Linked DNA regions of Homo sapiens: region 2 is linked to region 1. The links come from fine-mapping of genetic effects on gene expression. A gene starts in region 1. The other region holds a variant in brackets. All regions are shown on one strand. Distances are from middle to middle. Region 1 holds the start of METAP1 (methionyl aminopeptidase 1). Region 2 overlaps ADH1A (alcohol dehydrogenase 1A (class I), alpha polypeptide).

Region 1 (16,227 bases):
TTGTTAGAAAATTCCATTATTCAATTTTATGTCTTAAAATAATGTATTCCACACAAGTGTAAGTCTATTCATGGAAGCATTGATTGTAAGGGCAAAATACAGAAAACAAAGATTTAAATATCCATTCGTAAGAGAATGCACATATTGTGATATATTCAGAGAACAGAAAATTATATGGTAGGGAAAATAAAGAAATTAGGGATTCAAGTATCCCTAATTTCAAGGATGAATCTCACAATCATGATGAAGAATAATGAAGGCAAGAATGAAGAGTACAGAGTATAATGCCATGACAAAGGTTTAAGGTCTTCATGGGAATGATAAACACCAAATTTAGGATAGTGACTCTGCAGAAGAGAAGAAGGCCGATGCAATCAGAGAGAGTTATGCTGAGGAGATCAACTGTATTGGCCATATTTCATTCTTAAGCTGGGTGGTGAATATTACATTATTCTGGATTATCTTCCTTTTGTCCGTCTGAATCTGTTTTCTACCTTCTCATTTCTGCCCTCTGTCCTGAGAGGCTGACTTGTGTGGTCTTCTATAGGATCAATGGGCTCCTTGTCCCAGCTTTCAGAAGATCATAAGGTGGAAGAGAATGAAGTCTCAGCTTCCTGACTTTTTAGGATGACTTTGGGCTGGCCAGGTCTCTTAAGCAGAGGTCACATCTCCTGTTTGGAGGCCCTCTCTACCCAGCCCACTGTGAGTTTTGGTAATTGCCCAGTCCCCTTGTGCCTGCAGGGCCAGAAATGGAAATGTCCTATTGTTAACACTCAGTTACTACACCATTCCTTACAGTTTTCCGAAACCCTGCCACCCAAGCTGGAGTGCAGTGGCTGGATCATAGCTCACTGCAGCCTTGAACTCTTGGGCTCAAGCAATGCCAGGGAGCTGAAGCTAAAGGCATATGCTACCACCTGTGGCTAATTTTAACTATTTGTTTTTAATTTCTTTTAATTTTAATTTTTATTATTATGATTTTTAGATGGAGTCTCGCTCTGTCGCCCAGGCTGGAGTGCAATGGCGCGATCTTGGCTCACTGCAACCTCCGCCTCCAGGGTTCAAACGATTCTCCCACCTCAGCCTCCCCAGTAGCTGGGATTACAGGCACCCACCATCATGCCTGGATAATTTTTGTAGAGATGGGGTTTCACCATGTTGTCTGGGCTGGTCTCGAACATCCGCCCACCTCGGCCTCCCAAAGTGCTGGGATTACAGGCGTGAGCCACTGCACCCGGCCTTTTATTTTTTAAAGAGATGAGGGTCTTGCTATATTGCCCAGACTGGTCTGGAACTCCTGGCCTCAAGCTGTCTTCCTGCCTCAGCCTCCCAAAGTGCTGGGATTACAGGTAATTTGAAAAGAATGAAGAGTTTAATCGAGACTATAGCCATCCTGAATTAAGGAACAGAGAAGGGGACAAAGAAAAAGAAGAGACTGTAGTTGGACATGGTGGCTTGCACCTGTAATCCCATCACTTTGGGAGGCTGAGATGGGAGGATGGCTTGAGGCCAGGAACTGGAGACCAGTCTGGGCAACATTTCAAGACCCCATCTCTATAAAAAATAAAAACAAAATAGTTGGGAGTGGCGGTAAGTACTTGTAGTGTGAGACAATCTTATTTGAGCCCAGAAGCTCGAGGTTACTGTGAGCCATGACTGAGCCACAGCACTCCAGCCTAGGGGACAGAATGAGACCCTGACTCTAAAATAAATACACAAAAATACCATTTTATTTATTTGGTGTTACCCAGCTTGAGAGTGCCATCTGTTTTTTTGCTGGGTTGCTGAGTTCTGACTGATAGAATAGATATTCTCTCTCTTTTTCTCTCTCCAGACACATGAATCTTTTTTTTGCATATTTGACATAATGTGCTAACAAGTTGAGAAGAAAAAACTTTTATTTTTAATTTTTGATACAGGGACTTGTTCTGTCGCCCAGGCTGCAGTGCAGTGGTGTGAGCATAGCTCACCGCAACCTCAATTTCCCAGACTCAGGCGATCCTTCTGCCTCAGCCTCCTAAGTAGCTGGGATGACAGGTGACCACTACGAGGTCCAGCTAATTTTTAAAATTTTACTTTTAGGCTGGGCACAGTGGCTCACGCCTGTAATCCCAGCACTTTGGGAGGCCAAGGTGGGTGGATCACTTGAGGTCAGGAGTTTGAGACCAGCCTGACCAGCACGGAGAAACCCCGTCTCTTCTAAAAATACAAAATTAGCAGGGTGTGGTGGCACATGCCTGTAATCCCAGCTACTCGGGAGGCTGAGGCAGGAGAATCGCTTGAACCCAGGAGGCGGAGGTTACGGTGAGCCAAGATTGCGCCATTGCACTCCAGCCTGGGCAACAAGAGCGAAACTGTCTCAAAAAAAAAAAAATTACTTTTGGCAGAGATGAGATCTCGCTATGTTGCCCAGGCTGGTCCCAAATGCCTGAGCTCAAGTGATCCTCCTGCCTTGGCCTCCCAAAGTGCTGAGATTGTAGGTGAGAGCCACCATGCCCAGCCAAACATTTATTGAGCACCTATTATATATCAAGCATTGTGCTAGGGTTAAGGTTTGGAGATAGAGAGAAAAATAAATTAAATCTGTTGTTACAAGGAAGTCACAGTCTAGTAGGAGACACAGGTGAAAAACTGGCAATGAAGTATAGTGGCTAAAAACATGGGATTTGCAGTCTGAGAAACCTGAGCTCAATTCTAGGTTCTGTTACCTACTGGCTATGTGACCTTGGGCTACAGAAATAAAAATGGGATTACTACTGGTACCTTCCTTATAGGGTAGTTGTGAGGATTAAAAGTAAAAGCACTAGTATCTATACTTTTACATCTCACTAGTTATGTGTTGCTTAACCATGGGGATATGCTCTGAGAAACGCATTGTCAGGTGATTTTGTGGTTGTGTGAATATCATAAAGTGTCCTTACACAAACCTAGGTGGTGTAGCCTACTACACGCCTGGCTGTGTGGTGCACAGGCAGTCTACTGCTTTGAGGTTACAAACTTGTACAGCATGTTACTGCACTGAACACTGTAGGCAATTGTAACACAGTGGTATGTGTGTATCTAAATGTATCTCAACATACAAAGTTCCAGTAAAAATATGGCATAATAAATCTTATGAGACCACTGTTGTATATGTGCTCTGTCATTGACCCAAGTGTTGGAATGTCATACACATGACTATATGCCTAGGATATATTAAGTCCTTAATAAATGTTACCTAAAATTATTGTCAATTGTAACAATAGCACTTTGTACTTGGTTTAGAGGTAGCACAGAGGAGGCACTGATTAAGTAGAGCTAAGGAGGTCAGCAGAAGTTTAATGGGTGAAGCGATGTCAGAGCCGGATCTTAAGGAAATGGTACTTTCACCAAGAGATCAAGTGGGGAAAGGCAATCCAGACAGAGGAAACAACATGTATAAGAACATGGAAGAATGAAATAGCACTATGTGTTCAGGAAAACATGAGCATCTTGCTATTGCTAAATGGTCAAGGCCTAGGCATGAAAAATAATGAGACGAGGCTGAGTTACGTGGAGGTATACACAAAAAGCCTGGATTGGACTTGATCCTGCAGTTGAGCATCTAGGAAGAATTTTTAATTCTAATTTTTAATTTTTAGCACCATTTACTTGCTTTTGAGAGGAAGAATTTCTAAAACTTTTATTTTAAAATAATTTCAAAGCTGTAGAAAAGTAGCAAATTGAAAAAATAAAAAACTCTGCTATACCCAGGTTCTCCAATTTTTAACGTTCTCTCACATTTGTCTTATCATTCATTTCTCTTTCTGACTTCCACTATGTGTAATTGTCAAAATCAGGGAATTCATAAGGATACAACGCAACCTAATTTCCTTTATAGCAAAAACCTTTCTTTCTTTTGATCCAAAAATCCAACCCATGATCATGTGTTGCATTTAGCTGTCAGGTCTCTTCAGTCTCCTTGAATCTGGAAGAGTTCTTCAAATCTGTCTTTTGGGACATTGGCATTTTGAAGAGCATAGGTCAATTATATTGTAGAATGTCTTCAGCTTGTGTTTGTCTGATATTTCCTCATGATTAGAGGCATTTATGCATTTTTTTTCAGGAACACTAGAAAAGATAATACTGTATTCTCCTCAATGGTTCATATAGAGAGGTGTACAATGTCTATTTGTCACATTATTGGTGATTTTTCACTTTGATCACAATAAAGAGTATCTCCCAGGTCTCTCCACTTTAAAGTTACTATTTTTCCTTTTTAAATGATAAACGTTTTGTAGGGAGTTACACTGAGATATGTAAAAATATGGCAAACTATATAAAGAACAAAAGACAGTGAAAACTCTTAACGCAGCAATTCCACTTTTAAGACTGTATCTGAAGACCTCCTCGCCTCATGCCTGCATGCAGGCTGCATGCCTGCTCATCCCAGTACTTTGGGAGGCCAAGGTGGGAGGATGGCTTGAGATCAGGAGTTCGAGACCAGCCTGGGCAACATAGGGAGACCCTGTTGCTATTAAAAAAAAAAAAAAAAAAAAAAAATATATATATATATATATATATATATCTCCTAAGTAAATAAGGATGTATGTAAAGTTTTAGCTAAACGGATATTCACTGAAACCTTGTTTATAATAGATAACAATTTAAAATAACCTAAATGTCCATTATTAGTGGATTTGGTTCAGTAAATTACCCATACGATAGAATATTATGCAGACATTAAAATTATGTGGTAAAAGTATAATTGATGACAATAAAGAATGTTGTGTGCAGTGGCTTGTGCCAGTAATCCCAGCACTTTGGGAGGCGGGGGTGACAGGACCACTTCAGCCCAGAAGTTCAAGACCAGCCTGGACAACATAGTGAGACCCCTGTCTCCACAAAAAAGCTAAAAAATTAGCTGGGCAAGGTGGCGTGTACCTGTAGTCCTAACTAGTCCAGAGGCTGAGGCAGGAACATCACTTGAGCTCAGGATGTTGAGGCTGCAGTGAGCTGTTGTGTCCGGAATTGGTGGGTTCTTGGTCTCACTGACTTCAAGAATGAAGCCATGGACCCTCACCGTGAGTGTTACAGTTCTTAAAGGCATCGTGCCTGGAGTTTGTTCCTTCTGATGTTCAGATGTGTTCAGAGTTTCTTCCTTCTGGTGGGTTCCTGGTCTCGCTGGCTCAGGAGTGAAGCTGCAGACCTTCACGGTGAGTGTTACAGCTCTTAAGGCGGCACTTCTGGAGTTGCTTGTTCTCCCGGGTGGGTTGGTGGTCTCGATGGCTTCAGGAATGAAGCTGCAGACCTTCATGGTGAGTCTTACACCTCATAAATGCAGTGTGGACCCAAAGAGTGAGCAGTAGCAAGACTTATAGCAAAGAGTGAAAGAACAAAGCTTCCACGGTGCAGAAAGTAACCCCCATGGGTTCCCACTGCTAGCTTGGGCAGCCTGCTTTTATTCCCTTAACTGGCCCCACCCACATCCTGCTGATTGGTCCATTTTACAGAGAGCTGATTGGTCCATTTTGACAGGTTGCTGATTGGTGCGTGTACAAACCTTGAACTAGACACAAAAGTTCTCCAAGTTCCCACTAGATTAGCTAGACACAGAGCACTGATTGGTGCATTTACAAACCTTGAGCTAGACACATGATGCTTATTGGTGCATTTACAAACCTTGCACTAGATACAGAGTGCTGATTGGTGTATTCACAATCCCTTAGCTAGACATAAAGATTCTCCAAGTCCCCACCAGATTAGCTAGATACAGAGTGTGGATTGGTGCATCCACAAACCCTGAGCTAGACACAGGGTGCTGATTGGTGTGTTTACAAACCTTGAGCTAGATACGAGTGCTGATTGGTGTATTTACAATCCCTTAGCTAGACATAAAGGTTCTCCAAGTCCCCACTAGACTCAGGAGCCCAGCTGGCTACACCCAGTGGTTCCCGCACTGGGGCCGCAGGTGGAGCTGTCTGCCAGTCCCGAGCTGTAAGCCCACACTCCTGAGCCCTTGGGTGGTCCATGGGACCGGGTGCCCTGGAGCAGGGGGTGGCCCTCGTGGGGAGGCTTGGGCCACGTGGGCAGGAGCCCACGGTGGGGCCGGGGGAGGCTCAGGCATGGCGGGCTGCAGGTCCTGAGCCCTGCCCCGTGGGGAGGCAGGTAAGCCCCGGCAAGAAATCCAGCACAGCACTGGTGGGCCGGCACTGCTGGGGGACCCGGCGCACCCTCCGCAGCTGCTGGCCCAGGTGCTAAGCCCCTCACTGCCCGAGGCCGGCGGGGCCGGCCGGCCGCTCTGAGTGCGGGCCGCCAAGCCCACGCCCACCTGGAACTCTAGCTGGCCCGCAAGCGACGCACGCAGCCGCAGTTGCCACCCGTGCCTCTGCCACCACACCTACCACAAGCTGAGGGAACCGTCTCTGGCCTCGGCCAGCCCAGAGAAGGGCTCCCACGGTGCAGCGGCGGCTGAAGGGCTCCTCAAGCACGGCCAGAATGGGAGCTGAGGCCAGGAGGCACCGAGAGCAAGCAAGGGCTGCGAGGGCTGCCAGCATGCTGTCACCTCGCTGTCACCTCTCACTGTGAGCACCACTGCACTCCAGCCTGGTTGACAGGATGAGATGCTGTCTCAAAGAAAAACCAAACGACAAACAAAAAGTTGACATCATAGTAACTGAAGAAATCAGGTAAGTAAATTACTTTATATGGTATGGTGCAGTTTTTATTTAAAAAATATTTTATACATACATACATACTTATTGATTTTTTTCTTGTATACAAAAGTATATGTATGTATGCATGTAAACATTTCTATTACTTGATTTTATTACATCATTTTTACTGCTTATATTGCAAAACTAAGTTTTTTTTTTTTTGAGACATGGTCTTGCTCTGCCGTTTGGGCTGGAGTGCAGTGGCAGGATCATAGCTTACCATATCCTTGACTTCTCAGGTTCAACAGATCCTCCCAGCTCAGCCTCCTCAGTAGCTGGGACTACAGGCGCCTGCCACCATGCCCGGCTAATTTTTTAGTTTTTAGTTTTAGTTTTTGTAGAGACGGGGTTTTGCCATATTTCCACCCTGGTCTCGAACTCCTGGCCTCAAAGAATCCGCTGGCCTTGGTGCCCTGGATGCCCTGGCCTCTCAAAGTGCTGGGATTGATTACAGGCGTCAGCCACCGCTCCTAGCCAAAACAAAGTTCTTAAAAATAAAAGTAGTATGAGCTTTTCTGGTGTATTAAGTACGGAGAAGTTAAAAAAATACAATAACAAAGTTCACAGCCTTTTGTGATCAGTAAATGTTAGTTTTTCGCTCTTCCCTAGTGACAAGGAGGCACTCAAGCATGAGTTACAACACAACCGACCTGGAATACAGCTGAAAAGATTGAAGCAACAGGTTCGCAGGGGAAGGCCTTTACAGCTTCTTTCGACTCTGACATTTCAGGATCAGCACAATTCTCCCCTATTTACTGCTGAAGCAATCAACTGGGATTATACAAAAAAATTATTTGTATTGAATACCTGACAGTTGTGTTACTATTACTAGCACTATCGGTTTTGAAGGGGAGGTGGTGGTGTGTGGAAAAAAAAAGTCTGGCAGGAGGGAGGGCAGATGTGAATCCCAGCCCACCGTCCCGTTGACAGCTCTATGGCTCTCCTTTCTGTGAATGAGCGGTGGTCCTTAGGCCTCAGACCCGACAATGTCAGTGAGAAACAGAACTTAACCCAAGGGACTGTTCTCCAAGGAGCGGCGGGGGAATCCAACGCAGAGGAGCGCAGCGCCCTCTCTAGCCTCCTGCGGGTGTCGGGGATGATCAGGGCTCCTGGGTGTTCGTCAGTGAAGACGACTGTCTTATCTGACTGTAGGCACAGAGAGTGCGCCGCGAGAGGGCGGCTCCTCACCGTCAGGCGCCGGCAGGTCGCGTTCTCTGCTGGCCGACGCCCGAAGGCGCCGAATGGGGGGGCCCTGCCGAGCTCCCTTACAGCCCCAATGTGCGCGCCGCCGGGAGGCTTGGGCACGCAGGCACCGCCGGCGGGGGGCGGGGCGAAGCCGGCGGGGCGGGGCACCAGCTGCGCGCGCGGGGCGGGGGCGGGGCCGGGGCGGGGCGCGCTGCGTGGTCCCGGCCGGCCCTGGCTCCTCCCCCTCCCGCGCCCAGGCCAGCGGCGGGCCCAGCTCCTCCCCCGACTCGGTCTCTCTCCCCTCCCCTCCGCCCGGCAGTTCCTCCCTCCCGCCGCCGCCTCTTCCTCGGTGAGGCGCTCTTCCAGCGGGCAGGCAGCATGGCGGCCGTGGAGACGCGGGTGTGCGAGACAGACGGCTGCAGCAGTGAGGCCAAGCTCCAGTGTCCCACTTGCATCAAGCTGGGCATCCAGGGCTCGTACTTCTGCTCGCAGGTAGGCGCCCGCTGCCCCGCGGATATGCCGCCGCTGCGGGACCCCTCCTCGCTTCTCCCCTGCTGGCTCCTCCCGCCCTTGCGGCGAGTCGGGACGCGCTCCTCCTCTTCCCCCCGGCCGCGTTTCCTCCTCCCCCCACCCGCGTCGCCACCGCCCCCTCCTGCCTCCTGGGGTCCCTGGGTCCTCGGGAACCGCGCTGGGCTCACGCGGGGGCGGGGGCGCCACCCGCCGCGGCCATGTGGGCTGGGGCGGAAGCGGGCTGTGCGGGGTCGCGTGGCCGCGCTAGACCTCCGCGTTCTGGGGCCGGTTCCCCGCGCTGGGGCGGGGGCCGCCAGGTGTGCGGGCTGCCGGAGGCAGGTAGCGGCGCCGGGAAGGAGGGCAGCCCGAGCGTCGCGAGCCTCCACATCCGCAGCACCGGCGGGGCTCGGGTCTGGGCGCTGGAGGCGCCGGGCCGTCCGTCGGGTCCCTGCGGGGTGGGGGGCTGAAGCTACCTGCCGGGCTCTGAGAGATGGGTGGCCCGAGGACCGTCGGAGTCGCAGAGAGGAGGAACGCTAGCTAGCTCCAGCCCCACTTCTTTGTGCTTTACTACCGTGCTTTGACACTTAAGCAACTTTGGGGGTGGGGAAGGGAGAGGTCTGTGTAATTCATTCTTTTCTTTCGGTATATAAAATTATTAATTTACAAAACTGTAAGCTAACGGGATGAGTCACCTGTGACTGAATTTCCCAGAGTGAAAAGGACAGTTCCATTGAGGGTTAGGCGTGAATGCTGTAGTGTATTTTAAGTTTTGTGCAGTAGAGCAAACCCAGCGTTGAATGGGGTCCAGACTGAAGCGTGTGCTCGTGTTTCTGTTTACTGAAGAGTACTAGTGTTGCTGCTGCATTTCGAGACCCAGGATGAGGGCTGGGCGGCAATAGTATGGCTCTTAGTTACAGTCCAGGTTTAGTGAAGAGAGGCACATGAATATTCAAATATTAAATTGGTAGCGTCCTGTGGGGAGGAGAGCCGGAATAAAGAGAAGGCCTGATTGGGGCCCTGCCCTTGCCAGTTATTGTGCGATCTTGAATTAGTAAAGTTACTTAATCTTTCTGAGTTCCAGTGTTACACTGTACAGAGGGGATGATTATAGCTTTCTTTGTAAGTTTCACAAGCTTCTTCTGAGACCCAGATTATCCAAGGAACGTGAAATGCTGTTATAATGTAAAGTCCTTTATTTTTTAAAGGATTCTAGTACGATTTAACTCTGCCATAAATAAAAATATGAATAAGAATGAAGGCAGATATATGAACACAATACAAATAATAAAAGTGTTTTCCAACATAAAACATAAAAACGTAAAGATATAAATAAATACAATCTTTACGTCACAATATTTGTAGATAAGCGATTGCAAAAGGTCTTAGCTGTGTTATACAGTCTTGTTTTTAGATAGGATATGATCCTTGACCTTGTTAGTATAATTTGGAAAAACTTGCACGTGGAGGAGTGTTGCTTGATCTAAAAATAGCATTACCGAACAATCTAAAGGACCTGTACTAGGTTTAACATGTTGAGCATTACTCATGTTAGACCTAGTACACGTCCTTTAGATTCTTTAAAATTCCCAAATTCTATCTTGTTGTGGCCTGTGTGGGACCTGAAATTAAGAAACAGTGTTTGCTTTTGACAGTTGTACCATCTGAGTAGAATAACTTTAAAAGTAGGTGGCATTTTGAATTAATATGTATTACAATCTTCTGTTAAGATTTTAAAAAGGTAGTGTGAAACCACATTCATGAAACAGGTAGAAAGAAGGTGAATCACTGGGGTTTGTGGAAAAATGCTAGACAAATTTGTGAAAACAAAACATCTAGGGTTTATTCCGTGTGTTAGGATTGGAGGTATTTACATGTTGGATTCTGCAGGTATATTTCTGGTATCACTGTTAGACATGCACTCAAATATTCCCAGAGTGGCTGTCCCAACTGTCTCTTTTTCTTCATTTCTGTTACCACCTCCTATGGTCAGCTTTTAAAATTTCCCACCAAATCAGTTGTCATACTCTCTTAATTTATTTCTCTACTGTAATTCCTCCCCTTGCAAACAAACGCCCACAAAAAACCCTATCAAACAAAACCTTTTGTACAGAAGTTATTTTTCCCGCAGTCTGATTATGCGTATCCCTCATTGCTTTCAGGATTCCAGCCCCACATTCAGGGCCCCTCTTCTGAGCCTCTTGCTCTAGCCAAAGGCTATGTTTACATTCTTTCCTTTCCGAAGTGTCACCTGTCTTCTGAAATCACAGCTGTTCCCCCAATCCCAGCTTGAGACCTTGATCAAGTCACTGTAACTTATTCTAAGCGCTTTATACATCTGTGATGAAATATGGGCTTGGCTGGGCATGGTGGCTCACACCTGTAATCTCAGCACTTTGGGAGGCCTAGGCGGGTGGATCACCTGAGGTCAGGAGTTTGAGACCAGACTGGGCAACATGTCAAAACCCTGTCTCTACTAAAAATACAAAAATTAGCTGGGCGTGGTGGCACACGCCTGTAGTCCCAGCTACTCAGGAGGCTGAGACACAAGAATCACTTGAACCTGGGTGGTGGAGGTTGCAGTGAGCCGAGGTTGCACCACTGCACTCTATCCTGGGCAACAGAGCAAGACTCCGTCTCAAGAAAAAAACAAAAACAAAACAAAACAAAAAACCAAAAAGAAGAAATTAGGGATTTTCCTTAACACTTCTGTGATCACTAGGAGGTCTTTCTTTCTACTGCTCTGGTCCCTGGCCTGGCTGTCTGGCCAGCTTGTCTTTGGGAACAAACAGAACAAAACTGCAAGAGGCCTTTCTATCACACCATTAACAGAAGTAAGGCATTCCCAGTTACTCTGTCACACCACCTTGTTTATTCCTTTATGACCTTTTGTGCAATCTATGATTACCTCACCTGTTAGAAAAATGAGGATTTTTTTTTTTTTTGAGACGGAGTTTCGCTTTTGTTGCCCAGGCTGGAGTGCAATGGTGCGATCTCGACTCACCGCAACCTCCGCCTCCCAGGTTCAAGCAGTTCTCCTGCCTCAGCCTCGCAAGTAGATGGAATTACAGGCATGCACCACCACGCTCAGCTAATTTTGTATTTTTAGCAGAGATGGGGTTTCTCCATGTTGAGGCTGGTCTCGAACTGCTGACCTCAGGTGATCCACCCTCCTTGGCCTCCCAAAGTGCTGGGATTACAGGCGTGAGCCACCATGCCCGGCCGAGAATGTCTGTTTTTTAGTCGGAAGGTGAACTTCATGAATGATCCTATCTTGTTCACTGCCCTGTTCTCATTTCCCAGTATGATGCTCTGTATGCAGTAGGTGGCCATTAAATGTTTGAATTAATGGATAAATGCATCAAAATAGAGAGGTATACTGCTGTGTTTGAATCACAGCTCCATCATTTACTAGTTATGTGACTTGGGCAAATAACCTCTCTTTTTCAGCTGTATCTTTTTAAAATGGGGCTATTAATAATACCTATCTCAGGGTTTTGATGAAGACTAAATCCAAAGTATGTAAAGCTCTTAGCATATTAGTAAACTTAATGAATGTTAGCTCTTTTTATTGTTATACTGTTTTATGTTTAGGAAAGTAGAAATATTTTATCTAGGATGCTTAATTTTTTTTTTTTTTTTTTTTGAGACCGAGTCTTGCTCTGTCACCCAGGCTGGAGTGCAGTGGTGTGATCTCGGCTCACTGCAACCTCTGCCTCCCGGGTTCAAGCGATTCTGCTGCTTCAGCCTCCCCAGTAGCTGAGATTACAGGTGCGCACCACCACGCCTGGCTAATTTTTTTGTATTTTTAGTAGAGACGGGCTTTCACCGTGTTAGCTAGGATGGTCTGTAACTCCTGACCTCGTGATCCGCCTACCTCAGCCTCCCAAAGTGCTAGGATTACAGGCATGAGCCACTGTGCCAGCCTAGGATGTTTGATTTTAAGGAAAGCTTTTGTTCTTTAGAGGAGTACAACCAGTTTTACTTGAAAATTGAGTTTTCCAAGAGTTCTTGATGTTCGATTGTGTTTATTAATAGAAGTTTTCCTTCCTATTTAATAGTTTATGTATGTCTTTTTCATTTGTGTGTAAGAATTTTTTGAGGACAGAGGGTGTGTTTTACTCATTTTTGTATTTTCCAAAGTGCCTTGCCCACAGTAGGCCCTCATTTCCTTACATGAAAGAAAAGACATCAGTGGGCTTGCAATGGAAAACAAAGAAATTCTGTATTTACATTATCCTTTGTAAACACTGAATAGTATAGTATATTGTTGATACACTCATTTATTTGCTTATGGTTGAATTTAGTTACTTTTCAGTTTTTTAGCTGATGTTTAACTTTGTGAATAGCATAGGGCAGTTGCTGTCTCCTCTGGTTAGAGGATCAGCTGGGAGGGACCTGAGTGATCTGTAACTATTTATATTTATAAGGCATAAAAGGTAGTAAGCATAGTGTAAGTGGAAGGAGACCTGGATTTTGCTCCCATGACCTTGGGTAAGTCCCCTCCTTTGCTTAATGAAGCATCCTCTTCAATGGAGTTGAGCAGAAGGTGACTAAGAGAGCATCCAGGGTGCCTAGTAGAGCATATAGTAAATTTGGGCCTTATTGTGCATATAACCTCATATGTAATGTTATTAAAATCAGTACCAAGGAAGGCTTAAAAATCTTTGAGGGGAAATGTTACTTGTTTATGAACATTTTTGACAAATCCAATAATAGGTTCTTTAAAAGAAGTGGTAGGTAACATGATTAACTGAATCCAGGAAGAAAGTCTTTTTTTTTTTTTTTTTTAAATAACAAGACAGTTTTTCTTCTCTCTCTCTCTTTTTTTTTTTTTGAGTTGGGATCTTACTCTGTCAACCCAAGGTTGAAGTGCAGTGGCGTGATCTTGGTTCACTGCAACCTTCACCTCCCAGGCTCAAGTGATCCTCCTACCTCAGCCTCCCAGGTAGCTGGGAACACCAGTTTGAGCCACCACACCTGGCTAATTTTTTGTGTTTTTGGTAGAGACGGGGTTTCACCGTGTTGCCCAGGCTGGTCTTGAATTTCTGAGTTCCACTTTGCCTCAGCCTCCCAAAGTGTTGTCTATACAGGTGTGAGCCACTGCACCTGGCTGGAAGAAAGTCTTGTTGAGCATCTTGTAGGTTGGAGTTAGAAGGTAGAGAAGGAATTGCCGTTATAACATGCAGTATCTTTGAAATGCAACCCTGCCCTCTGAAACTTTCTCTGTCAGTAACAACATTCCTGCCAGTGCAGGGTGTTTCTGGAATTCATCTTCATTAAAGGAGATATTATCATGTTGTGCGTTTTTATTTATAGGGATTTTCTTTAAATTCCTCATGTCACTTCAGACCACCCTTAAACACTCCTGTAAGTTAGCTGAGTTTAGGTACAAATGCCATAGCTTCTTATAAGCAAAAAGATAGGATGAGGTAAAGAGAAATTATGAGTCTTTTTAAAACAAAACAAAAATAATTTCATAAATTGTTTATTGTAGAAAAATAGAAAATATGTGTGAAGATAATCAATTACCCAGAGATGATTTCTATGAAATTTTGGTGTGTATTCTTAAGAACATATTTGCGTATTTATTCATGTGCACACAGTTGTGTATGTTTTTACAAAAATGGCAACCATAATACATATAATCTTAGAGAATTTTCTCATCCTTAATGTCTTAACCAGTGTTTTGGTAGTGTCATGTCATGGCTACATTTACATGATCCTTTATAAAGACTGTTATGGGTGTACTGTCATTTGTTTATTCACTTATAGTTGAATTTAATTTCTTTTCAATTTTTTACCTTCTGTTTACTCTTCAATAAATATTCCTCGAAAATTTAAATCATTTTGACTTACTCAGGAACGTATAATAATGGTACAGGATTTGGTACATGAACCCAGAATTGAACTATCCTAAGCTAATTCTATATCCTTTTCCAGAACAGTGGTTCTCACAGTGTAGTTAGTGGATTATTGTTGGTTTGAGGGCCTTCTGGTCATCTATGAAGTTTTGGCATGAAATATACCTACATTACAGTAGAATTTGTAAAACAACAACAACAAAAAAACGAGCATCATTTGGTTGGTAGGCAATCAAAAGTTATACCAGTCTTTGAGTTACCTTTTTGGAAATTGAAGTGCTATAGGAAATGTGATCTTATACTGTTCACTTAGTTTGTGGATTGAAATCAAGTTTTAGTCATGGTTTTTTAAGGTGAATCTTTTTCATGTTTAGCATATTTGCAAAATTTTAGTTAAGTTTTAGTAAATTTCATAGGAGTGACAGACATAAGTGCATAGCTAAGCTCATTCCAGCTCTAGATATTCGGAAGAAAAGCAGTGGCACGGTAACTCCTTCTGTAATTGTCTTTGGTATTACTGCAATAGCAAACACTTTTAGATAGATATTAAATAGGCAGAAATACTTTATAAAGCAACCGTTGAGCTTCATTCTGTATCAAATGTTTAATGTAATGGAATATAAATGTAATTACAACCCTTTGTGCTTGATCCTGAACTTCGCCTGACCTCACAGTTTTAACATGAAGCATTCTTTTATTCATGCTTGGGCAGGTAGTGCTCCCAGCTCAACAATTATAAGTCTTTTCCTTTGATTTCCTTGATTGGTATCAGTCTTGTCTCTGGGTTTGAATAAAGAGCAATTCAAAACACTCTGTAAACGAGGCCTGCCTTTCTCATTGTGTGTGCATGTGTGTGTGGGGCACCTTATGGATGAAACTAGGATAGGGACCCCATGGAACTTCTCATGCTTTGTAAGTTGTAAATAAGTTCTCTCCTGTTTTTATCTCCAGTAACCTGACTTATTGCAAGGCTCAGTAAAGATTTCTTCCTGATACACCAGAGCTGTGCCATGTCTGTTGGAAAGCATTTCTAAAAACCCTGTTAAGGCCAGGCGCCGTGGCTTATGCCTGTAATCCCAGCACTTTGGGAGGCTGAGGCGGGCAGATATCTTGCTACGAGATCAGCCTGGTCAACATGGGGAAACCCCGTTTCTACTGAAAATACAAAAATTAGCTGGGTGGTGATGGTGCATGCCTGTAATCCCAGCTACTACTCAGGAGGCTGAGGCACAAGAATCTCTTGAACCTGAGAGGTGGAGTTTCAGTGAGCTGAGATTGCGCCACTGCACTCCAGCCTGGGCAACAGAATAAGACTGTCTCAAAAACAAACAAACAAACAAAAAACAACAAACCAAGAAAAGCCCCTGTTAATTGGGGTCTGCTATCTGCTAATGTGGCATTTATCTGGGTCACAGGCTCAAGCCTTTAAAGAGTGGTTAGGATATAAATGATAAGTGAAATTGTAACTTTAGCAACTTCCCTTATCATTATAAAGTGGGAGGCAACAGAGACTTCTCTGTGTTTTGAATGTGTGTTTAATGATTCTTCTGTGATTTAAGTACAAAACGCAAACCAATCTTTGCATCACATTCTGAAGGTTAACCCTGTCTTATCCAGCAAGTTACAGGCTTAGTCGTTCAATAAAATAGGTAAATGTAAGTTCCGTTAGGTTTTAAAAATGTCATAACTTTTTTTTGTCTTCTGAGTGGGGATTTATGTTATTACTGATTATTTCACTAACTGGTAATAGGGATGGGATTGACTATTAGAATACTGTTAACTTCTCACTCCACTAAACAAATGATAGAGAAAAATGTGAATGTTGTTACATGAATAATTTAATATTGCTTTTGAATTAAAGTTTTAAGGACCATAAAGTCAGGATCTGTCGATGTATGTTTTCTAAATTGTTTTTGATATTGAGTAGAATAAAAATATTAGTAAATGTTTGGGAAAAAAACTCAAACTTTTTTCCCTCTGTTCTCATACCACAACAG
Region 2 (8,000 bases), 290 kb after region 1:
AACCAAGGCACTCTAATTTTTCTCATCCTTCCACCTTTTCATTTTCTGCTAGACAATCCCCTATGGTAGAAAAAAAAGCAAAACAGAAAACTAACTAAAAAATCTACCTTTTCCCAGAGTGAAGCAGGTCAAATCCTTCATTTATTTTTTCAAAAGGTAAAACATGGGTTATTAATGCATCCAATGAAAACTTCTTAGCCATAAAATCAGCCACAAGTTTTGGGACACATTCTTTACTTTTAAAGCCTGAAAAGAAGATGGTATCATTGTTAGATTCAACCAGGGTAAGTAGGAGAATTGAAGAGAAGATTTTCCAAATAAATGAAAGTTTAGAAAAGATGCTGCTTCCAGACTGCAACGACTGAGGTTAATAAGAGATACAGTACCTCAATAAGCTTTTACAGGCTCAGACTTAAAAAAAAATCACAGATAAACAAGGGTCCCTGGTTATTCTCTCTCCCACAGAGAAATCATAGTACAGATGTTATGCCCAAAGGAACAAGTTTAACAGTTGTCTAAATTTGGGTGTAGATATGAAATATTGTTGTAGATTTCTGTGTCTTACTAGAAATTCCCATGCCTTACACAGTTACAAGTACGAAAACAGATGAAGAGGAACAGACTTTGTTAATGGTGGCATCAGAAATGTCGATTTTGGGACCTTCTGCCTGCATTAGTTCCATATCTAGTTGATTTGGAGACTGTAGATAGAAAAGGAATTTTAATTTGTTTTTGATCTGCTTTTCAAAACCTTGCCTTGTCACTTGTAAAAGGGGAGATATGCTGAGGTTAATGAGAATTTGGCTCTGAAGCCTAACTACATACCACCAAGAATAGCTCCCTTCCAGGTACGTCCAGTCAGTAGCAGCATAGGGTTCATTGAGAGGTTTTGGGAATCAGGAGGTACCCCTACGATGACACTTGTGCCACATGCCTCATGACAACATAACAGGGAAGCCATCTGGAATAAAGTGAACACTTAGCATTCTTAACATGGAGTCGCATAGTTCCTATTCATAATGCACAATATCATGTAATAGGCTTAACTGGATTGTGAGTGTGTAGAGGGAAGAGATTATGTCTTTTGCTCCTTCAGTCCCCTTTTTTGCACGGGATAGTGCTGTGGATTTAGGAAATGCCCAGAAAACGGTTTTTTAATGAAAGAATGGATGAATAAATTGGAGTGCACTTAATTTTTCCTAATAAAGGAATAAAGTGGTAGATATCATCACAAATATATATTAAGTCCAGTTCCTTATATAAGCATACAATTTCATCATCACATAATTCTTAGGCAATCTGTGAGTTGGTTAATTCATTTTTCATTGATTTATTACATAGGTATTTTGAACCCATTACTTTCAACCACATATTTTAATGGGAAACAAGATAAATGATTATATCACCAAAGTAGTCTCTTGTCCACTTGATGGTCTCCTTTTGTAATGGATTCCTGTTCTACTGTCCATTTCTCAAATGGACATGTTTTAAACATTGTTTTTATCTCCCCAAATATATATAGGTTTTACATTAAAATACCCTGATTATTAGGGAACCTCAAAAGACCGTTCAGAAAGTCTTTTCCAGTGAGCTTTCTGAACACGTTCTATAGTTAGAAAATGGTTTAGGATTGCCCCAAGATATGTAATGATTAGTTCTTTGATTTTGGATTCTGACCTTTGGGAGACCAGACATCCTCAGAACATGTGGCTGTCAGATATTTGGTATCTTGAGATAAGGTACACTCCCGTTCCACATGAGAAAATGGAGGAAGATACAGGAAAAGAACATTAGGAGAAAAGCTATAGCCCTGGAAAAAGTGGAATCTCTTGACACTTCATTCATCTGTGGCATTTGTCCCAGGGCAAGGCTGCTGAGAGCATTGATCTCAGGGTGCTGCTCCCCATTACCCACACTGCTGGACCTTCTAGAAAATCTTGGCAATGGAAACGTGTTGGTCTCTGGAGACTTTTTCAGTAGGATTCTAGAGAATTCTGGGTAGGTGAAATATAGCTAGAGATGTGTTTCCCATTGCCTTTGATATTTGTAACTGTTTGAAAGCAATATCATGTAATAAGCCAAAGATGATGTAAGTACTGCAAGATTGGAAATAGTATTTCATATCAATAACGCCAACTGAGGCCGGGCGTGGTAGCTCGTTCCTATATTCTCAGCATTTTTGGAGGGTGAGGTAGGAGATTTGCTTGAGCCCAGGAGGTTGAGGCTGTAGTGAGTTATAATTATGCCACTGTACTTCAGCCTAAGTGACAGAGTGAGACCCTGTCTCAAATAAAAAGAAGACATTTATTGGGAGCTTACCATATGACAGGCTGCACTGTGCTAAGTATATTACATGCATTGTCTCATGCAATCTATAAACAATGCCATGAGTATATAGCTTTGAAATTTGGGGGGTGATAAAAATCTGTTGACTTTTCAAAGTATTCAGTCCTACTAGTATTGGGCTCTAGTTTTGTGCCAGGTACTGTCCAGTTTCTGTGATAAAATATAGTAATGCATTTGAGCTTCACTTTCCTTAGGGCATGTTTTTGTTAATAAAACAATAGTTGGCCTAAAATTGCTTACTTCTTTTGGCCAAATACTAATATGTTTAAAAAAATTGGAATTTATTAAGAACATATGCAAAATTATTAAATCATTTTTGTTAAGAATGTGGCAGAAAAATAAAACATTCCAATTTGAGAACAGAACTTGTATTATTTATGTTTACTTTAACTTACAGTTTTTAACTAAAAATTAACAAAGTAATCTATTATCACTCAGTTAAGAAAAACAAGCCCTTTGCTTTTCCTCTAGAGGAAATATGACTTGAGACACGTTTGCATAGTTGATAGAATAAAAGATTCCTCATAACAATAAATTAAACAAGCCAGGTAACAAACAGATGATGGGAAATTTCCATTCATCATTAAAAATATCCTTTATACAGAAAACATATATTCTGCAGCCTAAATGCATCCTCCAAGTTGTAGAGGCAGAAATCTCAGGGCATGTCATGGTACATACCATGGTGTCAAGCCGACCGATGACTTCAAATGAAAAATCCACACCTCCATCAGTCATTTCCTTTAGCACCTCCTGGATGGGTTTCTTGTAGTCTTGAGGGTTGATGCATTCAGTGGCACCCAACTCTTTGGCCTTTGCAAATTTGTCCTTGTTGATGTCCACCGCAATGATTCTGGCTGCCCCAGCTGCTTTACAGCCCATAATAGCAGATAGGCCGACCCCTCCCAGGCCAAACACAGCACAGGTAGAGCCTGGGGTGACCTGTGTTTTCAGAAAATGCAAAAATGGATTATAAAAACTTTATAAAGTGCCATGCTTAGTGTTTATCAAAAGCTGCTCAAACTCTTCTGTTCAATCTGTTATCAAAACCTCTTTTGGCTTCAGTTGCTTTATTTTTAAATTCATGGAGTTGAACTAGTTGAGTGGTTCTCAAACTGCTGCATATTGGATTCATCTGGGCAGGTTTAAAAATATCCCACTGTCCAGGTCACAGCCCATGCCAATTAAATGAGAAGCTCTGCAGGTGGAACTTAGTCCCCAGGTGACTCCAATGGGAAGGTCAGGCTGGGAACCAGGCGACTGGATGATCTTTGAGATCCAGATGGCAGTGATTACAATCTTGAAGGGACTCTCGATTGCTGAAATCCCTTGATAGCCAGCTTCAGTAACTCATATATACACAAAGGCAATATTTGGAAAACAAAATAAGTGGAAAAGGCTACTCCAGGAGACTGAAAAATATTCCACTTAAACCCTCAGTAATGAACTCCTTGGTTCATTTATGTTCAGTAGTCATGACCAGTATATCCCTGCTTTAAAAAATACACTAGTGAATAACACAGTAATGAAACATTAGTCTATATTTTAATAATAAAATATATTGTTATGAGTATCCTCATCTTCTGTTCTTGGGTAGGCTCACTTAGATCACCTGTTAAAATAGACGAGGCAATTGAACAAGGGACTAAGAGCTAAAGTCACAGAAATTTGGAAAAGATGCCATCTACATTTTTTTAATTGGCCAGGGGATATTTATTAAACCTAGTCTCCCATAGTCCGCCTTCATTTTGCGTAACATGCTCTTCCTGTTCCAAATAATCTCATTCTTATATTCCCTTAAGGGTGTCTATTCATTCATTCATTCATTCATTCACCAAGTGGTATGCAATACTATGGGGGACAACACCATTTTCTAACTTACTTAGAAAAATACAAGGCTTGTGACTGTGATTTAAAAGTGCTAATAATTATGTATCATGATCTAAGATTCAGCAGGAGATTAGTAAAAGATATTTTAGTCTCAGCTCTCATATTAACCAGCAGTGAGACTTTGGGCAAATATCTTTATATCTCTGGGCCTCGGTTTCATAAAATAAAGCATACTACTAGATTTTCAGCCTACTCAGATAAGAAGCCTTTAAAGAATTTCTGCTTGAAATTTACCACTTCTGAATATATGTGTGTGTTCATGCCAGGGGAGTTAGTTTTAGCAGTGAAATGTCATAATGAGTGAATTACGCATCACTGAAGCGTCATTACTTTCAGTCTAAGAATCCACAGAGTGGGTGAGCCTTGGTTTGGAGGTGCATCAGGTAAGGTTTTGGACTCTACTGTTGTTGATCCTAATTCTGGGAGTAGAGGATCCACAGACTAGCTGCTCCTCA[A/G]GGGCAAACGCTTCATTTCATTTACTTTTGCTGTCAGAGCCTAGCAGAACCTATGGTGCCTGAAGCATGTGTAGGTGCTCTCTAATTGTAGAATGAATTACTAAATGAGTTCTCAGGCCTAATATTTCATGAGCTCATAAAGAGCAAATACAGAAGAGTAATTATTGAAAATGAAATCTTTACATTTTCTAAACTCTCAACAACTTTTTAATCTGATAAACAGGTGAAACTTCTAGCATGTGCTCTCAATTCTTTCTGGATTGTGTTTCTATTCTTAGTCGACATTCAAAATCTACAAAAATAATCTTCGATTCTTGTGAGACATTCCTTCCCTTTGGGTTCCTGACAGTCTGCGTGTAACTGTTTTTATCACCCATTGCCATTCTTACCTTGGCAACATTGACTGCAGACCCATAACCAGTTGAAAATCCACAGCCAATGAGACAGACTTTCTCTAGAGGCGAGGCTGCATCAATTTTGGCTACTGCATTTTCATCCACCACTGTGTACTGTGAGAAGGTGCTGATGCCAAGGAAGTGGTGGATGGGCTTCCTCCTGCAGGTGAACCTGCTGGTGCCATCCTGCAGGGTCCCCTGAGGATTGCTTACACTGGACAGTGCAATACAAAGACACACAAAGGCATGAGACAGGACCATAACTAATGTGCAAACTCAATGTCTGCGCAGGGAGAGCATCAGAAACCTACTCGTTTTTCAAGCAGTAGTTGCTCTCCGGGTTTTTACAAATTCTGCATTTTCCACACTGAGGAATAGCGAGTGGGATGACTTTATCACCTGGAGAGGGATAAAACAAATTCTTTTACAATTTCTATCCAGGTATTAATAGAGCAAAAACATAAAGCTCACATGTCTTTAAAACATTAGAAACATGTGTCTTTAAAAGTCTCCAAGAAATACAGTCCAATCACAAATATGTCATTTGTCATTGCCTGCCACAGCCTTGTTTCCAGTTTGGGTTTATAAGTGCCTGAAGATTCCTAAAGAGGACATGCAAATATGGGAAACAACATGGATTAGAAAAATTGCTTCCACTGTATTAACAGTTACTTTCATGTGGTGTACCAATTTCTCCTGGAGGCTTTACAAACATTTAATTTAATCCTTAACTATATAAATCTTACTGTAAGTATAAATATAAATTTTAGTTGAAAGTAGGGTATAATAGTTCCACTAGATGTTGGTAAGACCTGTTTTTTGTTATAGTTTGATTTACAATAAAAATGAGAATTTTGAACTAATTCTTTTCAAAGTAACTAGGTTTATCTTTATTATGAAATGAATGCTTTTAAAATGATCTCAGTTCTTTTTTTGAGGAAAACTATCAAAAATGGGACAAAGAACAATTCCAGAAATTCCTCTGGAAATTTCAACCCTCCACAATAAGTTAGGCACTTTTAGGATAAGAACTGACTTTGAAATGTTTTTAGCTGATAATTTGTGAATTATCTACTTTTCCTGTTACAGTGGAGGGAGCATGGGTAAAAAGTAAGGGTGTCATTTTGTTATTAACTTATTACTAACTAATTAGTTACTATTAGTATTATTTAGTAGTTATTATTAGTAGTTTAGTAGTTATTAGTTATTATTCAGTAGTTATTAATTTATTACTACTAAAGAAATTAGTAGGAGCTGAAACCCAAATTGGACAGTTCATTTTATTTTTCTGTTCACAGTTCAAATAAGTATTTGGTAAAGTGGCAGGTCCAATCTAGTGCCTAAAGTGATTTTTTAGACTGTAATCCCAGCACTTTGGGAGGCCGAGGCAGGCAGATCACGAGGTCAGGAGATCGAGACCATCCTGGCTAATATGGTGAAACCCTGTCTCTACTAAAAACAGAAAAAATTAGCTGGGTGTGGTGGCGGGCACCTGTGGCCCCAGATACCCGGTAGGCTGAGGCAGGAGAATGGCGTGAACCCGGGAGGTGGAGGTTGCAGTGAGCTGAGATCGCGCCACTGCACTCCAGCCTGGGCGACAGAGCGAGACTCCGTCTCAAAAAAAAAAAAAAAAAAAAGTGATTTTTTTAGAATTAAACATAATTTTTATTTTAAATTACCTATGCTGTCTATTCCACAAGACCAAGAAAAATGGTTGGCCCATAACATTTTATAGGTAAAATTTATGTGAAAATGATAGTATGGAAGTGTCCTAGTTATTCTCCCTTTATAATTAGTAATCCGTAACCAGTTACATTTAAGCATGGCTGAAAGTAATAAGGCAGACATTGTTGATGGTGGATGGCTCTTTCTATGTTTCTTTCATTTCCTTTCACCTAGTCTGCTTCATTGATTCCTTGCTCAGGAAGAGAGACCACGTTGCAAGAGGAAATTGGTGAAGGGGCTGCATAGGTCACCTAAGAAAAGGTCATGCTCATTCAGCCGTAGCCATGTAGCGTCCATTTTGTGAACTCAGCACAGAACAATGTCCATACTTATGTTTTTTCCCTCCTCCCATTTCTAGGTGTCTGGGCCCTGACAGAAGACCGTGTTCACCAACACTAACACGGAAGTTACTAGATTATGAATGCCACACTAGTAGGCACTGTGTCCCTTTTGATCCTCACATATCTCCAGGCTCCAACCTGGTGACTGGCATCTAGCAGATGCTCAGTACATAATTGTTGAAGGGTAGAATACATGCGTGCCTAAAGACATACATGCTTGAGTCAGGCAGGAAGAGAGGGAAAGAGGAAATCCCTGAAGTCCTGGCTGCGCGGTGACCTTGGTCAAGCCCTTTCGTCCCTCTTTGCCTCTGTTTCCTCATTCAGGCTGGGAAATCTTAGGATGGTGAACCATCATGTTTCCTGAATGTGAATCCTGTACCTGGTTTGACTGTAGTCACCCCTTCTCCAACACTCTCCACGATGCCGGCTGCCTCATGGCCTAAAATCACAGGAAGTGGGGTCACCATGGTACCACTAACCACGTGGTCATCTGTGCCACAGATTCCTACAGCCACCATCTACAGAGTGAAGAGAAGATGTTTATAAAAGATTGTGAGTCTCAGGTGAATTTAAAAATCCCAGTTCCCTGAAATTGCGCTTCCAAAATGTTTTCAAGGGTTTTGCTAATAATCCCTACTATCCCAAGTATGAAAGATTCAGTTTATCCTCAAGGTTGACCAGGCTGAAACCCTCCTCTACCTTCCATTCTTGAAGTAAACAGTTTAGAATAATCTGTGAAGTAACTGATCCTGAAATAGTTAAGTCTTAAATAATATAAAAGAATGCATGCCTTTAAAAAATAGAAGTAGAAGTTGCAAATTAATACATAAAAATATCTAATGCTAATT

Evidence for each region. PIP is the estimated chance that this variant, and not a neighbour inherited with it, causes the effect. A credible set is the group of variants that fine-mapping cannot tell apart.
Region 2: its variant is the best candidate, but not a certain one, in a credible set for the expression of METAP1 in visceral fat (GTEx, PIP 0.60).

The regions. Positions count from the first base shown.
Region 1 is chr4:98,987,517-99,003,743 of GRCh38, forward strand. METAP1 (methionyl aminopeptidase 1) reads left to right here and starts at 8,205. Exons shown (of 11, transcript NM_015143.3): 1 at 8,205-8,351. The coding sequence starts at 8,238. It overlaps MIR3684 (microRNA 3684), which reads left to right and starts at 9,871; the gene lies at 9,871-9,944. RefSeq lists enhancers at 7,647-7,696, 8,618-9,400 and silencers at 7,937-8,256, 8,417-8,876.
Region 2 is chr4:99,279,319-99,287,318 of GRCh38, forward strand. ADH1A (alcohol dehydrogenase 1A (class I), alpha polypeptide) reads right to left here. Exons shown (of 9, transcript NM_000667.4): 3 at 7,532-7,670; 4 at 5,398-5,485; 5 at 5,081-5,300; 6 at 3,028-3,288; 7 at 826-961; 8 at 108-246. It overlaps LOC100507053 (a long non-coding RNA gene), which reads left to right. Exons shown (of 10, transcript NR_037884.1): 5 at 7,477-7,715. Among named protein-coding and RNA genes, the nearest start is that of ADH1A, 7.7 kb to the right of the region's middle. RefSeq lists an enhancer at 6,949-8,000. The variant A/G (reference allele first, on the strand shown) is at 4,692.